Linked DNA regions of Homo sapiens: regions 1 and 2 are each reported to be linked to region 3. Evidence: microRNA targets listed by miRTarBase, many of them from high-throughput screens and not tested one by one. Region 3 holds a microRNA gene; each other region holds the end of a gene's coding sequence. Distances are from middle to middle.

Region 1 (5,064 bases), not on the chromosome of region 3:
CGTGATTAGAAGGGTGAAGAGTGAGGGGCAGGTGCCCACGGAGCCCCTGGGAGGGTGGCGGCCCCTGGCCGCTCCCTTTCCAGCTCCTGCCGTGTACTCCGATGCCACGGGCAGTGACCCGCTGTGGCAGCGGCTGGAGCCATGTGGCCACCGAGACAGCGTTTCCTCCTCCTCCAGCATGTCATCCAGCGACACTGTCATTGACCTCTCCCTGCCCAGCCTGGGCCTGGGCCGCAGCCGTGAGAACCTCGCTGGAGCCCACATGGGACGCCTGCCCCCCAGGCCCCACTCGGCTTCGGCTGCCCGCCCAGACCTGCCACCTGTGACCAAGAGCAAATCCAACCCCAACCTTCGGGCTACAGGCCAGCGGCCTCCCATACCTGACGAACTGCAGCCCAGGTCCCTGGCCCCAAGGATGGCTGGCCTCCCCTTCCGGCCTCCCTGGGGCTGCCTTTCCCTGGTGGGCGTGCAGGACTGCCCCGTGGCTGCCAAGTCCAAGAGCCTGGGCGACCTCACTGCTGATGACTTTGCCCCTAGCTTTGAGGGCGGCTCCCGCAGACTGAGCCACAGCCTGGGCCTCCCGGGAGGGACACGGCGGGTGTCGGGGCCAGGGGTGAGACGGGACACCCTGACAGAGCAGCTGCGCTGGCTCACTGTCTTCCAGCAGGCAGGAGACATCACGTCACCCACCAGCCTGGGCCCGGCTGGGGAGGGGGTGGCAGGGGGCCCTGGTTTTGTGCGGCGCTCCTCCTCCCGCAGCCACAGCCGCGTGCGTGCCATTGCCAGCCGGGCCCGCCAGGCCCAGGAGCGGCAGCAGAGACTGCAGGGCCTGGGCCGGCAGGGACCCCCAGAAGAGGAGCGGGGCACCCCCGAGGGCGCCTGCTCCGTGGGCCACGAGGGCAGTGTGGATGCACCAGCACCCTCCAAGGGAGCCCTCGGGCCAGCATCCGCGGCTGCTGAAAACCTGGTCCTGCTCCGCCTCTGACCGTCAGTGGTGGGAACCTGGGCGGCTCTGGAGGCCCAGGGCAGGGGTGGGCGTGTTGTTTGCTCAGGAAACAGGGCAGCCAGGCCCCCAAAACTGTGTCCCCCTGGCTGCCCTGTGTCCCCTCCACCCCTGCCTCCCTCCTGCCCCTGCTCCCGGGGAGGAAAGGCTAAAGCTGCTGGCCCGGGGCCCACAGGAGGGGCTTCGAGGCTGGCCCTGCCAGGCAGTTTTCCCGGCGTTTTAGGATCTGTACATAGAGAAATATTTAAATTTTTAGAAGCAAAACTTATACAACATTAAAATGATACCAAGTCCCTTTCCATTTTTACCTGGTTTTTCACCCCAGGTGTGTGTGGTGTGCATCTGTGCGCACCTGTCCTGAGCCTGCCCCGGGAGGCGCGGCTGACCTGGCCACGGCACAGGCGGGGGTGCTTGTGAGGCACCAGGGCTGCTCAGGACGGCCGTCTGGGCCTTGCCCTGAAGCCTGTATCTGCCTTGCACCGACCACGCCACCCTCTGCACCATGCCTAAGCCTCTGTCAACTCCCAAACGTGGTTCTGATAAACGTGCTCACCAGCACGCATGGGCTTCCCGTTCGCTCAGCCTCCTGTGCCACTTACTTACCAGGTGCCCGTCGGAGCCTGCGCCAGGCCCAGAAGACACCCCAAGAAAAGACCTGGCCTGTCCTCAGAGGGCTGAGCTGGACAGGCTCCCAGGGTAGGCTGCAAAGCCTGCTCCTCAGGACGCAGGCCCTAACCCCGGGCCACAGGCCCCCCAACCCGGGGGACTGCTCTGCCTGCAGAGCATGGTGGTTCCAGAAAGGCCCCTACCCTAGAGAAGCTGGGGTGCTGGTCGGGCCTCTGGAAGCCTGTGCTGCAGCCCGTCCTCTGCTGCCCCAACAGTGGGAGTGGGTGTGGCCCACCCTGTGGCCAGGGGAGTCAGGGGATGTCCTGCCCCATGAGGCTCTGTCACCTGCGGCTGCCCAAGGGGCCTGCCCGGCGCACCACCCGGATGAGCACTGCTCTGTCGGGGTATCCCGTCTCACCCCTGGCTGCGTTGTGCCCAGGCAGGGCCCTTGGGAAGGCGGGCCTGAGGCCCGGAGGCCGGGATCCTGGGGTGCTGGGGGAGCTCTAAGGGGGCTGTTCTGCCCTCACCATGTTCCTGCACTGACAGGGATTGTGGGCGGCCACAGGAATCGCTGTCACCACTTCCCCAGCTCAGCCAGGCAGAGGGGCCACTGGTGCCGCCCTTCCCCCAGCCCCACCACGCCCCTCAGAGAGAGCCTGGCAGGACTTCGTCATCCTCGAGCCCCAGAACACTTGCGTGTGGGCAGCTGCAGCCCCACCGAGAGCAGGGGTGTGGTGAGCTGGTTGCCTGGGGCCCGGGGCGGCACCTGAACCTGAGGAGTCTCAGCTCTGGGACAGGGGACTCACAGAGCCCCCGGCAGTGACACTGACAGCAGCCTGGTGACCGAGGCCTCCTGGCGAGCCCCCAAGTGGTGCCGTGGGCAGGGCAGAGGTTGGGGAGCCAGCTGGGGGTCTGCGGGAGTCAAGGAGGGGCTGAGGGCCTGGGGCCAGCTCGTGTTTTGAGGAAAGCGCCGTTGAAATGGCCACATCAAGGGAACAAGGCAGAGGCCAGAGCCCTCCTGCTCCAGCTCCGGCTTCGGCGGGAAAGGGCTGGGGAAGGGCTGGGAAAGGGCTGGGGAAGGGCTGGGGTCACAGAGGCTGGGGTTGCCCGGAGGCACAGGGGTGCCTGGCTCATAGGCTGGGTGGCCCCTTGTGCAAGAGGGGAGCTGAGGCCGTGGCCACCGGCAGGCCCTGCATGGGGGTGTGCAGGGGCTGAGCCTGGGCTAGGCCCTGGTGTCTTTGTCCTGGCTCTGTCCTTCCAGGCCTCTGTGCATCCCCCACCTCCTCCTCGGCATCCTGTCTGGGCCAGGCTCAGGCCAAACCTCTGTAGTGGGTGCGTCCCCAGCACAGATGGACTCTCCAACCCCGGGGTCAAGCCCTGTGGGTGTCAGGCCAGGCAGTCACACATCCGGGTGCCCAGAGCGGCCAGGCCACTGCTGCCACCCACCACCAGTGAGGGTGGGGCCAGGATGGGAGCAAGAGCTGGAGGGGCCGAGTGGGGTCAGGGAAGGCTACAGAGATGCAGGCTGGGAGGGCTTCCCCATCAGAGAGCCGGGCCTGAGGAGAGGGCCGGAAAGTGGTGAGGGCCCATGGGGTTCCGGGGGCTGGGCCTCTGCCCTGGGGACCCACAGGAGGGAGAAGCTGGAGCCAGGGGGACAGTCCACCTCAGGATAGCCCAGCTGCCCCCGGGCTCCTCTGCCAGGACACGAGACCCTTTGGTGGCCGCTGCACGAGGGCTGGGACTCAGGTTCCACGCAGACTCCAAGGGCAGGTCACGAAGAGACACCACAGTGGGGGCCAGAAATGGCCACTGGGCACCTCTGGGCAGGCCAGGTCTCCATGAGGGAGGGGTCTTAGCCTCTGCAGGTTCCAGACCACCAAGCAAAGCTGTCTGGAAGGTGATCCATGCCACCCCACCTCCTTGGCCTAGGACAGCCTGTGCTTGGGGGTCTCAGTGAAGCCTCTGGATGTGGGGGACCCCAGCGGGGGTGGGGGTGGTGGGGCAAGGTAGCAGCTCAGCCTCCTCAGGGCCTGCCCAGCAGCTCAGCACCAGGAACAGCTCCCACCACATGAAGTCAAAGCTGGGGGCCTGCAGCCAGCCCACCCCAGCAGGGCCTCCGCAAGCCCTGTGCCCTCCTGCCCTCTCTACGATGCTATGTGTGGTCTCAATCCCACACCTGGGCTGAGGGGGAGGACCCCCAGGCGCCTCAGAGCTCCCAGGGGCCAGGCCCAGCGGGCCTCCCTGCTGCCAGCTCCCCCCAGCCATGCCCACCCTAGCCACAGAACACGGCCCCAGGGAGCCTGGTCCCAAGGCCATAGCAACCAAACCCACGCGGTCCACACAGTTCCTAGCAGGGTCCACGTCGGCCCCTGGCTGCCTGAGAGCCCTTGAGGGTGATCGATGTCGAGGGCTCCTTTCCCAGGCTCTCGAGTCAGGAATTGCTGCTCAGCACCCACACATCCCGCAGGTGCAGGGGGAGGGCGCTGGAGGGACGAGGGTGGCTGAGTTGGTTCTTCTGGCCCGGAGGGAGCGGTGAGAGACGCAGGGGCCCGGGGCCATGGGGTCTGCGGGGCGGCTGGCACTCGTTGCCTACAAGGTCTAGAAGCAGCGCAGGGAAGGGCTCCCGCTCTGGGCTCCCCCCATGGGAGGAGTCGGGAGGGGCCCCTGCTCCGAAATAAAACATCGCAGATGGCTCCGGCCTCTTTTAAAAACTCTATTTGGTGCGTGCCCACGGTGCTGCGTCCCGTCAGACATACCTGTATAGATCTCTCTATTTATATATATATATATATAAAAGGTTCTTTAGCAGTTAAATAGATTCCAATATGAACGTCTCCCAGGACAAAGCTGCGTCTCGCCTCTGGGTCACACGCATCTGTGCGGCTGGGGTGTATGTGCCGCGTCACAGCAGTACCATATAAATACGTTGATTTGAACGCAGTTTCCCTGTGGTGGTAAAAACACATTCCTGACAAGTGACAAGCAGAAGAGTCCGGCAGCTGCAGCGCCTCACTCGGCTGGGACCTCGTACTTGAAGATGACGCTGAAGAGCCGGCCGCCCAGCCGCTCGGCCAGCCACGCGTTCTTGATGACGGCCAGCTTGAGGCTCTCGCAGCGCAGGGCTGCGTGGTAGTTTGTGTGGACAGCACGGCCCATGCCCTCGATGACCACCAGATCCGCGCCACGCTCCCGCACCAGTGCGGCCAGCCCCTTATCCAGGCGGCTTTGGGGAGGAAGAGGACGGTGAGACTGGGCAAGCAGACCCCAGACCCCACTTCCCATACAGTGCGGCGACCAACGTGAAGGCTGAAACCCCTACCGCTCAATTCCCTGATGTGGAGGCCTCCAAACCCAGCCTCCGCCTGGTAGCTGCCTCAGCCTGGGGCTTCCTCAGAGCAGCAGCTCACACAGGGCCAGAGCAGCTGCAGCTTGGAAACTCTGCCCTAGATCTCCTG
Region 2 (5,064 bases), 89 Mb from region 3:
CACTGAGCACCAGGTGGTCTCCTCTGACTTCAACAGCGACACCCACTCCTCCACCTTTGACGCTGGGGCTGGCATTGCCCTCAACGACCACTTTGTCAAGCTCATTTCCTGGTATGTGGCTGGGGCCAGAGACTGGCTCTTAAAAAGTGCAGGGTCTGGCGCCCTCTGGTGGCTGGCTCAGAAAAAGGGCCCTGACAACTCTTTTCATCTTCTAGGTATGACAACGAATTTGGCTACAGCAACAGGGTGGTGGACCTCATGGCCCACATGGCCTCCAAGGAGTAAGACCCCTGGACCACCAGCCCCAGCAAGAGCACAAGAGGAAGAGAGAGACCCTCACTGCTGGGGAGTCCCTGCCACACTCAGTCCCCCACCACACTGAATCTCCCCTCCTCACAGTTGCCATGTAGACCCCTTGAAGAGGGGAGGGGCCTAGGGAGCCGCACCTTGTCATGTACCATCAATAAAGTACCCTGTGCTCAACCAGTTACTTGTCCTGTCTTATTCTAGGGTCTGGGGCAGAGGGGAGGGAAGCTGGGCTTGTGTCAAGGTGAGACATTCTTGCTGGGGAGGGACCTGGTATGTTCTCCTCAGACTGAGGGTAGGGCCTCCAAACAGCCTTGCTTGCTTCGAGAACCATTTGCTTCCCGCTCAGACGTCTTGAGTGCTACAGGAAGCTGGCACCACTACTTCAGAGAACAAGGCCTTTTCCTCTCCTCGCTCCAGTCCTAGGCTATCTGCTGTTGGCCAAACATGGAAGAAGCTATTCTGTGGGCAGCCCCAGGGAGGCTGACAGGTGGAGGAAGTCAGGGCTCGCACTGGGCTCTGACGCTGACTGGTTAGTGGAGCTCAGCCTGGAGCTGAGCTGCAGCGGGCAATTCCAGCTTGGCCTCCGCAGCTGTGAGGTCTTGAGCACGTGCTCTATTGCTTTCTGTGCCCTCGTGTCTTATCTGAGGACATCGTGGCCAGCCCCTAAGGTCTTCAAGCAGGATTCATCTAGGTAAACCAAGTACCTAAAACCATGCCCAAGGCGGTAAGGACTATATAATGTTTAAAAATCGGTAAAAATGCCCACCTCGCATAGTTTTGAGGAAGATGAACTGAGATGTGTCAGGGTGACTTATTTCCATCATCGTCCTTAGGGGAACTTGGGTAGGGGCAAGGCGTGTAGCTGGGACCTAGGTCCAGACCCCTGGCTCTGCCACTGAACGGCTCAGTTGCTTTGGGCAGTTACTCCCGGGCCTCACTTTGCACGTGTGCTTACCTAGTGGAGACAAAAGTACATACCTCGGTAGAGCGCGCACGCCTGTAACCCCAGCACTTTGGGAGGCCAAGGTGGGTGTATCACCTGAGGTCAGGAGTTTGAGACCAGCCTGGCCAACATGGTGAAACTCCGTCTCTACTAAAATTACAAAAATCAGCCAGGCTTCATGGCACATGCCTATAGTCCCAGCTACAGGCATGCTGAAGCAGGAGAATCGCTTGCACCCCGGAGGCAGAGGCTGCAGTGAGCTGAGACCACACCACTGCACTCCAGCCTAGGCAACAGAGTATGAGACTCCATCTCAAAAAAAAAAAAAGTACCTACCTCAGAGTTCAAACTAGTGAATATTAGGAAGTGCTTGAGACAGTGACACCAAAGTGCACAATAAATACTCGCCAGTTTCATTATTATTAAAGAATCCATTTGAATGTCAGCTCAACACAGCCTCCTATACCGAGGCATTGTGAACCGCATCTCCCCAGCTTCTCCAGGCTTTTCCAAGAATCAGGGACACTGTAGCCTGTTGGTCTCAGTGTATGACAGACACGGAGGAAGCACATCTTTAGCTGATACTTAAACAGAGACCCTGAGCGCACATACACCCGCGCACACATGCATGGAGCTTCACCTTCTCTGTCATTCTGCAGTGACCAGGAGAGCAAGAGCTCCCACCTCCCTTCAAAACACTGTGCCCATCCCGGGCACTAAGGCCTCTTTAAAGCACGGCACCTCCACGAGGGAGGGCCACAGCCACATACACTCCACCTGGCAGGTGGACAGCGTGAGCACGTGGACCATAGCAGGGACAAGGTGCCCCGGCCAGCCCCAACGCCCTCTGCCGCTGACAGGGACAGAAGCCCTCTCCAGCTGCGTGTGCTGCAGAGGCCATGCGTAGCCTCCAGCTGCATTCTATTCCACTCCAGTGCCTGGGCCAGTTAGCACCAGTGTGGAAGACAGTGAGCTGGCTCCGGACAACAGGGATGGAGGAAAGGTCCCACATTCACATTCCTGATACGTGGACAAGGTGAGGGGCCGCAATCGCTCTGGCAGCATTTTAAAGATGGGGAAGTAGCAGACACCCACGCGTGAAGGCAGGAGAGCCCCAACTGTGGTGGAAATGGCCCCAGAATGGTAGGGCCAAGCCTAGCTCCAGACACCCCAGAGCCCTGGAGAAGCCAAGACTGAGGGAGAAAGCCTGAGGGAGGAGCGCCCCAGTCCCCAGGGACCGGCCTGGTGCAGAGCTGCAGCTGATGTTCCCCTCTGTGCAGCCCCACCCTCTGCCTCGCTGAGCTCCCTGCTGCGAGGGCCTCGGGTGCAAGGGGGAGGCAGGTCTCTATCTCATGGAGCTGTCAGATGAGACATCGCGATCGGAGTCCTCAGCCTCGCTTGGCGGCGGCGGCGGGTCGCTAAGCGGGACCGCAGTGAAAGCAGGAGACTTTCTAGAAAAAAACACCAGTTGTCAACCTTGGGGCAGGCAGGAATCCTGAAGACGGACGGCACTCCTCCTCCTGCTGCCTCACCCTCTGGCAGCCCGTGAGAAGTACCGGAAGCGAGGGCGGGGCCGCGGGATGGCGAGGGAGCGGCAGGGACTGAACTCTCTCCAAACCCACCCTGACAGGGAAATGGGCCCCGCCTGTGTCTTGGGAACTCAGAGGCTGAGGTCAGGCATGATGGCTCACGCCTGTAATTCCAGCACTTTGGGAGGCAGAGGCGGGTGGATCACGACGTCAGGAGTTCAAGGCAAGCCTGGCCAACATGGTGAAACCCCATCTCTACTAAAAATGCAAAAATTAGCCAGGTGTGGTGGCGGGCGCCTTGGAGGCTGAGGCAAGATAATCACTTGAACCTGGGAGGCGGAGGTTGTAGTGAGCCAAAAAAAAAAAAAAAAGAAATAGCTGAAGTCACAGTAGGAGAGAAGCTGCTGAGCCTCCAGCACCCTGACTCTAGGGCCTTGGCTTTATGTCTATCTGCAGTATTTTTGTGATTTTTAAAAATTCACTTTCTTGTTGCGGTGTAACTTACACAGGGTCAAATGCACAAATCATGGCCCTGACTTTAGATAAAAATCTGCCCCCACAACCCTTCTGTTCCTTGCCAGTTTTTAAACTGCCTCTAACCAGGGGAACCACCAGAGCTGGTGGCCTTGGGAGGTTTCAGCCCTCCCGTCATGAATGGACATAGCTCATCCAACTGCCAAGGGAGAGAGCTGTGGGTCTGGGCCAGCCCCACCAGGTAACTCCCAAAGGGCAGCCCCACAGCAAGATGTGACCCAGTCATTGCCTGAGGGTCTCTGGGGCTGTGTTCCAACCTTTCTCCCCGCTGTGTCCCCCTGGAAGGCCCCATGCCCAGGGGAGGCGCCTACCGGTCTCCAGACTGGGTGATGAGCCGGCGGCAGGTCTCCATCTGCACGTCCAGGCCGCGCTTCATGCTGCACATCTCCATGTACTCGTGCAGGTGCCGGTTCATGTCGTTCTTGGCCGTGGCCAACTCCAGCTGTGGTGGGGCAGGCAGGGCCATCGGGGTTAACAGGTGGCGTTCACAGCGCCTCTGTTGCCCCCGCCAGGAGGCCAACACGCCAAGAGCAGTGGCTGGGCCGGGGGCCCAGGCAGCCATTACTGAAGGCTCAGATTTTAAAATAAACCAGACCAAGGCAGAAGGCAGCGAATACACCATTGTTTCCTCTGCTTTTCCTGGAAATCTTTGCCTATGGAGGAATGCAAAGGTACTGCTGCAGGCTGTGTTCTTTTAAGACTGATAAGAGTGGTGAGGAAAGTCAGTGTGGGCGGGATGGAGCAGATCCACAGGCTCCCAGGGCCACACAGGTTCCTATGGGGCCCGGCTCACCCCTCATCCCCTGTACTGCGCTGGTCCTGGGCTGTCCCCTCACTGCACTGTGAGCTCCCGTAAGGGTTAGCGACAGGTTTTCCTCATCCTGGCAGACCCAGACCTCGAAGGGAATTAACTCTCTCTGTGACCCGTGGCATACAAGCCTGGCTAACTGCTGAAAGGGGCCCAATCCTCTTACCATTCTCTCCTTATCACTTTATTTTCTCACCTAAAAGCCATTTTCAGACACTAAAAGGAAGACTCCCATATTGGAGGTGCCATTGATTCTGAGACCTGTCCTGATTTCAGAAATGTCACACGTGGAAAACACGGGGCTCAGAATCAAAGAAATCCGGTCTCCCTCCCCGGGCCCATTCTGCAGCCCACACTCTGAGGCAGGCGGAGAGGCAGGGCCCAGGCAGCACAAACTCAGTGCCAGGGACAGTCGACTGCCTCTCTTTGTTTTGGGTACAAAGGGCAGGGGCCGCAAGGGGAAGCAAAATGAAACTTCCTGGAGATGACGTTCGTGACTGCCTGAGTGAAGAGAACGGGGAGGATACCAGCTGCCATAATGTGGATTGGACAGAGAGGGTGGGAACTTAGAGAAAGAAGGAAACAGGTTACAGGGCCAGACAGCAGAGATGGTCAGGACAGTGACATTTGGGGTGAGATGGCGGCTGGCTGGGTGAGAAGCCCTAGTGGGGACAGCTTCCCTGGCAGGCTTGGATCCACAGCTGGGGCCCCACAGTAGTGGGAGGAGCAGGACACGGTGACTGTTCAACCCAGGGGGAAAATACAGTGCCACCAGCCCTTGTTCAGATCAGCTGCCTACACCCCAATTTCTCCACCTTGGAAGAACCGGAGTGCAGGGAGCTGGGTTCTGGAACCATCACTCAGGGAGACTGGGAAGAAGGAAATGAACCAAATATATTCTACTGAAATACAAGGCTAGTACTGCCACCAGTAGTCTCTGC
Region 3 (5,072 bases):
TAGAGAAAAGTAGAATGATGGTTGCCAAGGCTGTGGGGAAGGGGAAAATGGGAGTTGTTTAATGGGTATAGAGTCCCAGATTTGCAAGATGAAAAAATTCTGAAGATCTGTTTCACACCAATGTGACTGGACTTAATCTCATTGAACTATACACATAAAAATGGTTAAGATAGTAAAATTTATATGTGTTTTTAAAAATCACAATTTAAAAGATGCAAAAAAAGAGAGTACTTTGCCCATCCCCCCAAAGACTATAATCTCAAGTCTTCAGGTAGGGTAGGAAATGTACTACCCTAATATATAAAACACAATTAATCAAAAAGTAAAAATGAAAATACCTCTGAAAGAATATTCTCAAATGATATTTTTTAAAAATCACAGTTTAACACTCAACTAAGTGTCTGGATTGAATGTAGACTTCAAAAACTTACTACGTAAACAAGCTATAACTTTTTAACTCTTCACAAATTCCTATTTTCAGTGTTCATAATGAACAAGGTTTAAAAAAGTGGAAAGGCTCCCAAAATACTGAGAACATATATGTATATAAATCAAGGATGGGTTCACTCATTTCAAGCTATGTCAAGAAGTCTATGGGATGAAGCATGTCTGTTGTGATGGATATAGTACAGAACTAACTCCACGGCTGAGTTCTTCAGAGTGAGCCTCTGTAGGCTCATAGTCCTATTTTAAAGGAATAACCTATTGACCCAATTTGCTGGTGTTATAAGCTTGGAGGAATAGCACAATTTCAAGTTCCTTTCACAGGTGGAGTTTCTGATTAGTCTGTGGTTATTTGAAACATGGTCTACACCTACTGCAGAAGCCAGCATTATTAAAAGCATACATTTTCATTGTGCACCATAACTTTTGGATTTGGGGTCGTTTCATACTTTTTCAGAAATACTGTCTTCTAAATTAAACAGAAAAACATCTATGTGAATATAGCGATGCAACAGTTGTGATATGAGACCATGTGATGGATCAACTAGGTCAGAATATTTGTAAAATCCAGAGTGGCAAGGAATAAAAATAGAGAAACTTACTAAAAATCTTCTACAAAATAGTGATGTAAAATGTGACGTATTAACCAATTTCTACTGTGTCATTCTAGCTTGTTTTCATTAACCATAGCAGAACTTCTAAAAGTGAGCTCTAAAATGTGGCAAATTTGATAATAAATTAAGGAAAAAGTCATTAGTCTCCAAAAACAAGAATTGAAAATCATTTGGCACTGAAGCCAGATGGCAAAGACTAAATGCTCTTCAGAAATTATGAACAATTATTCAGTTACATGAGACTGACATAACAGTGTCAAGTAGAAAAACATTTAAGAAAACAGAAACCATTAAATTTGGGGGAGAGTTTAATTTGGAGGAAGAAGTTGATTTTGGGGTTTTTTAGGGCTAAGTTGCTTCAGCTAAAAATATAGAACTGATAATAAACAAGAATAGCTCTCTTCACTGGCAATAATATCTGTATGGAATTTCTATTGCGAGAAATTACTATAATGCCAAAGGCTGGGAAGACTTTGTTACCCAATGTCATCCCTCTAATTTTAGAAGGATTAACCAACCAATTTTTGCTAAAATGTAGGCACACATACCAAAAAATGTGAATCTTGGTGAATATAGGATGTCTGGTAGGCCTCAGGTTATCTTCAGTCTTCACACTCTTGATGTTCCAGGAATGATGCGCGAGCTTAGGTTGGTTCTAGGATAGGCCCAGGGGCCTGGTTTGATCTGGGATCCCTGGGACCATACCTAGAACAAACCCAAACAAAACCAAACTCCTTGGGAGTGCTTTCAGCTCAGGTAGACTTCTGGGCTTTTCACCCATATGGACCTCCACGACTGTACCAGGACCATATACCAACCTTTAAGGGATGGGAGTGACATTTCTGGAGCCTTCTGTACGTTGTCAGCTGATAGTACTGTGCCTGAGTAAGCATTATTTAAGTCATGGTATGAACAGAAGGTAACAGATTGGTGCAATAAAAGTGCAGAAAATACTTTGATTTAGAAATGAAGTTAATTTCCTTAAGAATTTACTTAAGGAAGGGGAAAAGGATATGCTTTGTTTAGGATATTATAAAAGAGTAAACTTATAAAAGACATGCTTTAGTTTTAGAAAAATTCTTCAATAATATTCATTTGTAGGTAGCTAAGCTTTAGGAAATGATATAAAACTGAAAAACATAAAGCCTAAAACAGTAAAATTATCCTTTAAGAAAATCTTAGGATATAAATAGGAGAGGAAATATATATATCCATAGCCATATCTCACAGAATATACTGATTTTAAAGGATAATGCAGTCAAGAGAATATGCAGCTTAAATACTGTACTATTGCAATAATATGTTGCTAAATGAAGTTCAATACATAGAGATAAAACTAATTTCATTGCTGACAAGCTAAAATACATTAAAATATATACCATAAAAAATACTATATGCACTTTAATTTATCACACATTTCATTTTCCTTCTTTTTTTTTTTTTTTTTTTTTTTGAGACAGAGTTTCACTCTTGTTGCCCAGGCTGGAGTGCATTGGCACAATCTCGGCTCACCAAAACCTCCGACTCCCAGGTTCAAGCGATTCTCCTGCCTCAGCCTCCTGAGTAGCTGGGATTACAGGCATGAACCACCATATCCGGCTAATTTTGTATTTTTAGTAGAGACGGGGTTTCTCCATGTTGGTCAGGCGGTTCTTGAACTCCCGACCTCAGGTGATCCGCCCACCTGGGCCTCCCAAACTGCTGGGATTACAGGTGTGAACCACCACGCCCAGCCCATTTTCATTTATTTATTTTTGAGACAAGGTCTCTCGTTCTGTTGCCCAGGCTGGAGTGCAGTGGTGCAATCATGGCTCACTGCAGCTGTGGCCTCCTGGGCTCAAGTGATCCTCCTGCCTCAGCCTACTGAGCAGCTGGGACTACAGGTGTGTGCCACCACATCCAGCTAATTTTTAAGTTTTTCTGTAGAGACCAAGTCTTGCTGTTTCTTGCCTAAGCTGGTCTTGAACTCCTGGCCTCAAGAGATCCTCCTGCCTCAGCCTCTCAAAGTGCTAGGATTGTAGGTGTGAGCCACTACGTCCTAGCTTATCACACATTTTAGAATATCTATAAAATCAGTTCCTCCTTATTCATGCTAAACTTTTACATGTGTGAATCCTTGAATCAATTAATCCTCTTTTTGGTTTACAGCAATTACACTGAATAGAATCACTTTCCTCTCACAACTACACTCAGAAGTTTTCTTCTTTTATCACTGACCTGGCTTTGGTATCTTGACTATCTCTTCTATAATGGCAGTCTCAACTCAAGAAACTGGTTTGGACCACCTATCTTTTTTTTTTTTTTTTGAGATGAAGTCTTACTCTGTCACCCAGGCTGGAGTGCAATGGCGCAATCTCGGCTCACTGTAACCTCCGCCTCCCGGGTTCAAGTGATTCTCCTGCCTCAGCCTACTGAGTAGCTAGAATTATAGGCAGGTACCACCACCACGCCCGGCTAATTTTTGTATTTTTAGTAGAGACGGGGTTTCACCATGTTGGTCAGGCTGGTCTCGAACTCCTGACCTCGTGATCCACCTGCCTCGGCCTCCCAAAGTGCTGGGATTACAGGCGTGAGCCACCGCGCCCAGCCTGGACCACTTATCTTTTATGATTATTATACCACAGATCCCTTCCATTAGCATGGATAACTGAATGCCGACTATGAGGCATGGTCATAAAATAAACAGACTGATTTGACAGTTACTTTGTAATGAAAACATGAGTCAATATATGGTTACTAAAATAATCAGCATGTTGCTAAAAATAAGTTGTTTGATGCTAGGATATCCATTTCTATACAGATTTGACTTTTACTTGTAAATATTATAGTGTGCAAATTTTATTTTTCATTCAAGAGAGAAAAGTGATCCTGCTTAATTATTAAATATTAAATTACAATTTAATCATGCCCAGTACAGAATGACAGTGGGAATTTAGTCATTCAAATATCTGCCAATATCATTAGATCTAACACTGATAACTTTTGGTAAGCTTTTAACGTCCGCTTACTATAGCTGAATAAAAATAAAGACCCTGTTTTTAAAACTAGCATAATCAAAAAATAAATTCTTTGTGGTATAATTGCCTATAGTCTATAAATTTTATTACTTCTCAGGTCTCTGTGACATTAATAGTGAATGTTTTCTTATTTTTCAGGGCTTAATCTATTTTCATGTCTTGGAAATGAAGATACATTTCTCTCTTAAAAAAAAAAAAAAAAAAAAAAAAAAAGCCGGCTGGGCGCTGTGGCTCATGCCTGTAATCCCAGCACTTTGGGAGGCCAAGGACGGCAGATCACAAGGTCAGGAGATCGAGACCATCCTGGCTAACACGGTGAAAACCCATCTCTACTAAAAATACAAAAAAATAGCCGGAGTGGTGGCGGGCGCCTGTAGTCCCAGCTACTCCGGAGGCTGAGGCAGAAGAATGGCGTGAACTTGGGAGGCGGACCTTGCAGTGAGCCGAGATTGCACCACTGCACTCCAGCCTCGGCAACAGAGTGAGACTCTGTCTCAAACAAAACAAAACAACAACAAAAAAAAAGCCAAAGAAATTCTTAACAGCATGTAGTCTCCAATTCAAATAGAAAATACTATAGAAAATGCTAACTTGAGTGGACCAGTTTTAATCAGCGCCAAATAATTCTAGTATAGAACTAACTTTAGAGAAAGTAAAGTATGTAAACAAAATAGTTCCTTTTGTACCATAACAACTTTTCTATTTTGAGAGCAGGTATCTAATTCGGTAGCTTCACTTATTTTAACGATAGCAATGAAACAGGTAGTAAAGTAACAGATGTCACAAAATCCATGCATTTAAGCATAATCCACTTCCTCAAGTCTTCACTTTGAGTTTATTTATTCTTACTTTACACAGAAGTCTAATAAACTTAGTTTGTCTGGTCTCCAAAATGAAAGCAGATCAGAAGGCACATTATGAAGGTGGAGAAGGGCTACTGCTACAGGCACACTTAAGCAAGCAGTAATAGAAATGGAAGAATCAGAACGACTGTTAA

Evidence for each region. Region 3 holds the annotated microRNA hsa-miR-331-3p (GCCCCUGGGCCUAUCCUAGAA, at 1,712-1,732, opposite strand). A microRNA usually pairs through its seed, bases 2 to 8, with sites in the 3' UTR of a target mRNA and lowers its output. Matches are read on the target gene's strand: a 7mer-m8 pairs with bases 2 to 8, a 7mer-A1 pairs with bases 2 to 7 and ends in A, and an 8mer does both.
Region 1: miRTarBase lists PLCH2 as a target of hsa-miR-331-3p. The part of its 3' UTR that is shown has no 7-base or 8-base seed match.
Region 2: miRTarBase lists GAPDH as a target of hsa-miR-331-3p. The part of its 3' UTR that is shown has no 7-base or 8-base seed match.

What each region holds. Positions count from the first base shown.
Region 1 is chr1:2,504,229-2,509,292 of GRCh38, forward strand. It overlaps PLCH2 (phospholipase C eta 2), which reads left to right. Exons shown (of 22, transcript NM_014638.4): 22 at 1-1,304. The coding sequence ends at 985. It overlaps PANK4 (pantothenate kinase 4 (inactive)), which reads right to left. Exons shown (of 19, transcript NM_018216.4): 19 at 4,309-4,832. The coding sequence ends at 4,619. Among named protein-coding and RNA genes, the nearest start is that of PANK4, 20 kb to the right of the region's middle.
Region 2 is chr12:6,537,886-6,542,949 of GRCh38, forward strand. It overlaps GAPDH (glyceraldehyde-3-phosphate dehydrogenase), which reads left to right. Exons shown (of 9, transcript NM_002046.7): 8 at 1-111; 9 at 216-486. The coding sequence ends at 285. It overlaps IFFO1 (intermediate filament family orphan 1), which reads right to left. Exons shown (of 10, transcript NM_001193457.2): 9 at 3,627-3,757; 10 at 1,654-2,703. The coding sequence ends at 2,598. Among named protein-coding and RNA genes, the nearest start is that of GAPDH, 5.9 kb to the left of the region's middle. RefSeq lists enhancers at 1,685-1,894, 2,675-2,824, 2,855-2,994.
Region 3 is chr12:95,305,140-95,310,211 of GRCh38, reverse strand. MIR331 (microRNA 331) reads right to left here and starts at 1,792; the gene lies at 1,699-1,792. It overlaps MIR3685 (microRNA 3685), which reads right to left and starts at 289; the gene lies at 228-289.